Linked DNA regions of Homo sapiens: region 1 is linked to region 2. Evidence: fine-mapped expression QTL. A gene starts in region 2. The other region holds a variant in brackets. All regions are shown on one strand. Distances are between the middles of the regions.

The links. PIP is the estimated chance that this variant, and not a neighbour inherited with it, causes the effect.
Region 1: its variant is the best candidate, but not a certain one, in a credible set for the expression of TSPAN32 in whole blood (TOPMed, PIP 0.89).

What each region holds. Positions count from the first base shown.
Region 1 is chr11:2,363,180-2,366,190 of GRCh38, forward strand. All of the region lies in intron 1 of CD81-AS1 (CD81 antisense RNA 1), which reads right to left. Among named protein-coding and RNA genes, the nearest start is that of CD81, 13 kb to the right of the region's middle. The variant G/T (reference allele first, on the strand shown) is at 1,860.
Region 2 is chr11:2,300,662-2,303,367 of GRCh38, forward strand. It overlaps TSPAN32 (tetraspanin 32), which reads left to right and starts at 1,352. Exons shown (of 10, transcript NM_139022.3): 1 at 1,352-1,554; 2 at 2,183-2,297. The coding sequence starts at 1,489. C11orf21 (chromosome 11 open reading frame 21) reads right to left here and starts at 1,257. Exons shown (of 4, transcript NM_001329958.2): 1 at 1,095-1,257. The coding sequence starts at 1,147.

The sequences.
Region 1 (3,011 bases), 63 kb after region 2:
CAAGCAGGGCACGACAGACAGCTTCTGGAACATCACTCAATGCCGTGGCCAGCCCCATTCTGATGGGTCTGCACCAATCGGGGCTGCTTGTTAAGCATGACTAAAGTCTCCTGCAGTCGTCTGCTAGGACTGCCACAGCAAAGCGCCACAGTCTGGCAGCCTTCACAGAGACATTTATCTCCCCAGCCCTGGGGGCCTCAAGTCCAAGCTCAAGTTGTTGTTGGGGCTGGTTCCTTCGGGGGCTACGAGGTGGCCTCTGCCCAGTCCCTCCAGCCTCTGCCCAGTCCCTCCAGCCTCTGGGGCTCCCAGGCAGCCTCGTGTTTCTTGGCTCGTGGAGCATCACTCTAATCTCTGCCTTCACCTTCACATGGCGTCCTTCCTGTGTGTGCGTCTGCATCCAACTTCCCCTGTTCCTAAGGTCACCGGTCAGATCTGAGCAGGATACTAATGGCCATATCTTAGTTACATCTGCAGTGACCCTATTTCCAAATAAGGTCACATATGAGGCACTGAAGGTCGGGACTGCAACATGCTTGTTCTCCTATCATGGAATCAGACCAGCAGGTGGGTCACATTCCGCCAGAGGGAGAGTGGGCAGACGCCCAAAGGGCTGGATGTATACAGCTCCAGGAAGAACCGCAGTTGCAGCTGCTTGGACAGGTGTGGGCACTCACAGCCTCCCATGACAGCCCTGGCTGGGGGCTCCATCCACAGCCCCTGGTGGGGTGGGGCAAGGCCCTTCCTTCTGACCCACAGGACCTTGGACCCCTGGGGCACTGCAGAGGGACTCAGGGTCAGACCAGCAGCCTTTGACATGGCCAAGAGTGAAAGTGATGGGGACCCACGAGCCATCAGAGCTCTGTCTCCAGAGCCTGCACAGGGAGTGTTGGGACAAGGAGCAAAGGAATCGGGAGCACATCAAGGCAGGCACCAGATTTGGAAGAACGCCCCGGGGGAGGTGCTCCCAGGCGAGTGGGGCAGAGGGCAGTCTCCTCCTGGGCTTCCCTGGGTCCCAGCCCGGCCCGGCTGGGCGTCCCACTGTCTTTGGTGTGGTGTGCTCCCTGCCTGTGGCCCTGTGATGGGAGTCCTGCTTCTCTAAACAGTGAGACCCTCACAGAACCCGTCAGCATGTCCAAAGCACCTGGAGGAGAAAAGATTTGTCTCCTCATTCGTCACTAGGTTCATGGTTGAGGCTCTCACAGCAAAAGACAGATTAACAAGAGAAAAGCAGACACATTTATTCAATATAAGTTTCATCTCGTATAGGAGCCTTCGGAAATGAGGACCCAGCACTTCGGGAGGCCGAGGTGGACAGACCATTTGAAGTCAGGAGTTCCGAGACCAGCCTGGCCAACATGGTGAAACCCCATCTCTACTAAAAATACAAAATTAGCCGGGCATGGTGGCATGTGCCTGCAGTCCCAGCTACCGGGGTGGCTGAGGCAGGAGACTTGCTTGAACCCGGGAGGTGGAGGTTGCAGTGAGCCGAGATCACGCCATTACACTTCAGCCAGGGTGACAGAGTGAAACTCCGTCTCAAAAAAAAAAAAAAAAAGAAAAAGAAAAGGAAAAAGAAATGAGGACCCAAGGGAAGAGGGAAACCCGTGTATTTTTATGTGGAGTTTGATGGAGAGTCATGCAGAGTGTGATTGGATTAGACAAAGTGGGTGTACTCGTCCGTTCTTGCACTGTATAAAGAATACTTGAGACTGCGTAATTCATAAAGAAAGGAGGTTTACTTGGCTTACAGTTCCCCAGGCTGTACAGAAAGCATGGTGCTGGCATCCACATGGCTTCTGGGGGCGGGCTCAGGAAACTTACAATCATGGCGGAAGGCAAAGGAGGAGCTGGCACTTCAC[G/T]TGGCCGGAGCAGGAGGAAGCCCAGAGGGAGAGAGGGGAGGTGCCATATGCCTTTAAACAAGCAGGTCTCATGAGAACTCACTATCACGAGAACAGCACTGGGGGGAAATCCACCCCCATGAGCCAATCACCTCCAGCAGGCCCCACCTCCAGCATTGGGGATTACAATTCAACATGAGATTTAGGCAGGTACACAGATCCAAACCGTATCAGGGTGTGGCCTAATGGTGATACACTGGGGAGACTTGGCCTGTGGTCTTAGTCCATCGTGTGCTGTTAGAACAGAAAACCACAGACTGGCTAACTTATTGGCCCCTGGTCCTAGAGGCTGGGAGGTCCGAGATCGACAGGCCACCTCTGGCAAGGGTCTTTGTGCTGCCTTATCCCATGACAGAAGGGCAAAGAGAGGGAGAGAGAGACAGCCAGAGAGAAGGGGACCAAACTCATCCTTCTGTCAGAGCCCGCTCCCACGACAATGATGTTAGTCCATCATGATTACAGAGATGGGGGACACATTCAGACCACAGCAGCCCCCTCAACCCGCACACACTGCACATTGAGGGGAGGGCCGGGAGACTGGAAGGAAACATCAGAGTCTGGAGAAGACCACCAGGATCACCAGGGCTATGCTCTCACCCGGCACCCAGCACCGAGGGGCTCATGGGAAACAAGACGGGTCTCTCGGTGCACGAGTGCTGGGCACACATAGTCCACCGTGCATCCTGGGCTGATGATCTGGACCCTGGTCCTGTGCAGCCCTGGGGTGGGGCTCCAGGCTGAGATCAGCCACGTCTGGGGGAGGAGACAGTGTTCCCAGTCTCACCTTGCCCCACGGACTCTGACAGGGGTTGAAGAAGCAAGGAGGCTCCAAGGACTGGGGAGGGGGAGTCTGGCCGACGATCTAGGAGCATCAAGGCGCCTGCTCCCTCTCGGCGTGGCCCGGTCCTGTAGGTGGTCAGTTATGCAATGCCACTGCCTTCCTACCTCACAAGGAGGGTGGGTGGACTCAGAAGCCAGGCCCAGGCTTCCTTCTTGGCTCAGGCAAGGAACATAGGGGGCTTTGAGCTTTGCTTATTCATTTAACAACTGAACCCCTAGTCTGTGCCAGGCCCCCATTTAAATGGTCCCTGGGATACAGCAGGGTCCAGAATG
Region 2 (2,706 bases):
CCTGCTCCGAAATTCTTCAGACCTGATGAAGAGGTGTCCCAGAAGCGGGTGGTGCTCCAGGCCCGCCTCACCAGCTCCAGGGAGGTCAAGGTTGGAGAGAGACAATTCTAGGGGCGAACCAGACATAGCCAAGAGCAGCTCATCTTCCCTGGAGAGGACGGGCTGCCCACTTGCACAGCCCGGGGGCCTCCTGCCCCTAGACCTGGTACCTTCACTCTTGTTGCCACCCCTACATTCATACCTGCGCCCCAGTCTGAGCCACACCTAGGCCCCCAGCTGAAGTGACACTGTGGGTGCCAGGCATCTGAGGTCTCCACAAGCCCCCACAGACTCAGGGTGGGAATTCCTGGGGGCCAGAGCTGCAGAGGGTGCTGCCTGGGGGTGCTGGGCTGGACGGGGGTCCTGGTTGTCCCTCCTGGTTCTCCTGGTTCTCCCTCCGCAGAGGGAGGGAGGCGGTGGCCTCAGCAGTTCCTCCAGCAGCGTTCCTGAGCGGGCGGCAGCTGGGCCCTCTTCCCACAGCCACGCTGGGGTTGCCATGCCTGCAGGTCTTGGGGCCCCCTCCCCCTTGATGAGGTCCTGACCAAATGCAGGAGGAGCAATTCCAGCACCGAGGGGCGAGCAGAGCCGCCTGTTAGCACTCCTGGGAGGGCCCGGAGTGGTCCCTGAATGATGGATTCACCTGGAACATTTTCACCCTCTTCAGGCCCACCCTGCCCCAGAGGCCCACGGAAACCCTGCCTGTACTGGGGCCGCAGCGCTGCCCCCACCCATACGTAATTACACGGCTCGGTGTAATTGCAAATTCGAGGTTTACAAAGCCTCCCCCTGGAGGCCCCACGTGAGTGTGAGCGAGGCCCCAGCCCACCCCTGTGGCCCCAAGAAGGCTCTGCGACAAAATATCCATGAGTGCCGCCCACGAAGGCATTAAAACCAACGACCTTCTCAAAACTTAAGCTGTCACAGGACATTTCAAAGGGTGTTTCCTAAGAACACCTCAATAATGATGTTCCAAGGAGACCCCATCCAAATTCCTCCAAGGATTACGCCCCCAAGGCCCAGTCCACACTTGCTCACTCCCAGGACGGGGAGCTCACCTCCTCCTCCCCGGGCGCCGTCTCCTCCACATCCCACACCAGGTCCTGCCCATGACTTTCCCCCTCTCAGCGCCGTCCTCAGTGGCCACACCAAGAACGAGGCCATGTCTTCCTGGGAAGGGCCTCAGATGTCAGCAAATGCCCTGGTGTCTTGGGCTGGGCTGGGGGCACCAGGGTGAGGTGGTGGGGGGAGCCAACCTCACTGCCCCTCCCCTTCCTGCCTGCCCTTCTTCCGGGGCACCCAGCAGCTCGGTCCTAGGGCGATGTTGACAGACAGACAGAGGGGCGGATGCAGCCTACCTCCTGGGCAGTGAGCTGCGGTCTGAGGCCCCTGCCCAGCTGGAAACCACAGGGAGGGGAAGGGAGGGGAGGAGAGGAGAGGAGAGGAACCGTCATGGGGCCTTGGAGTCGAGTCAGGGTTGCCAAATGCCAGATGCTGGTCACCTGCTTCTTTATCTTGGTAACAGGCAGGTCGGGCAGGAGTGGGTGGTGGGTGGGGGTGAGCAGGGGTGAGGGGTGGCAGGGCCTCAGCACAGGGATTATCCCTCCCCTGACACACACACCAGCCCTACTGTCCCTGTCCTGCCCTTGCAGACATGTGTCCTGCCCTTGCAGACAGCCGCAGGCAGGCAGGGACCACCATGAGCAACCCCGTCTCTCCTCCTGAGGGGCAGCACAGAGCCTGGAGGAGGCCTGAGTGGGGCTGAGGCCTGGGGCGAGCTGGGGTGGAGGGGCACTGGCTGCCGGGCTCCAGGGATCTTCTCCCCTTCCTGCCCCGGAGGGTGCTGGCACAGGGGTGGGGCTCACTCCCACTCCGTAGACACAATGATCAGAGGTCCTGGGTGTCTGGGGAAGCTGGGCTGTGCGTGTATGCGTCTACCATGTGGGGGTGCCTGTGAGTGTGCTGGGGCGTCTGCAGTGAAGGCCTCCTGAGACCACTCCACGGAAACACCGGGAATCCCTGCAGCTGAGCCTGTCTCTCACGGGACCGGGAAGCTGGAGAGAGCCCCAACCCTGCCCGCTGGGGCCGAGCTCCCTGCTCCTGCAGCAGTCCCATGCCCCACACTCTGAGTCTGCCCTATCCACAGCTGCTGGGCCTCTCTGTGGCCACCATGGTGACTCTTACCTACTTCGGGGCCCACTTTGCTGTCATCCGCCGAGCGTCCCTGGAGAAGAACCCGTACCAGGCTGTGCACCAATGGGGTAAGTGAGGTCCAGGCCTGGCTGCATCGGGAGGGGCCTCGGGTGCAAGGGTGGCTGGCACGAGCCCAGCTGGACGCCTCACAGCCAGAATGGTGCCAGGCCCTAGGCAGGAGCCAGAGGTGGTCAGGGGCAGGGAGGGGCTGCCCTGGAGTCCTAGCTCCCCTGGGCAGGGCCTCGGGTCTGGGTGACAGCCAGTGTTCCTGCCTGGTTCTCGTGCCCCACAGGAGCGTGGGCACAGTGTGGGTATATGTCGGGCAGGGTCAGGAAGTGGCTCTGTGCGGTCAGGACCTGGCTCTGTGCAGTCAGGGCTCAGTCCCAGGCAGGCCTGGGACTGGCCTGGGGCTGGGCACAGCAGGTCCATGAGGGCTCCACATGGCTGATGTTCCACTCAGGACCTGGGATGTGGGTG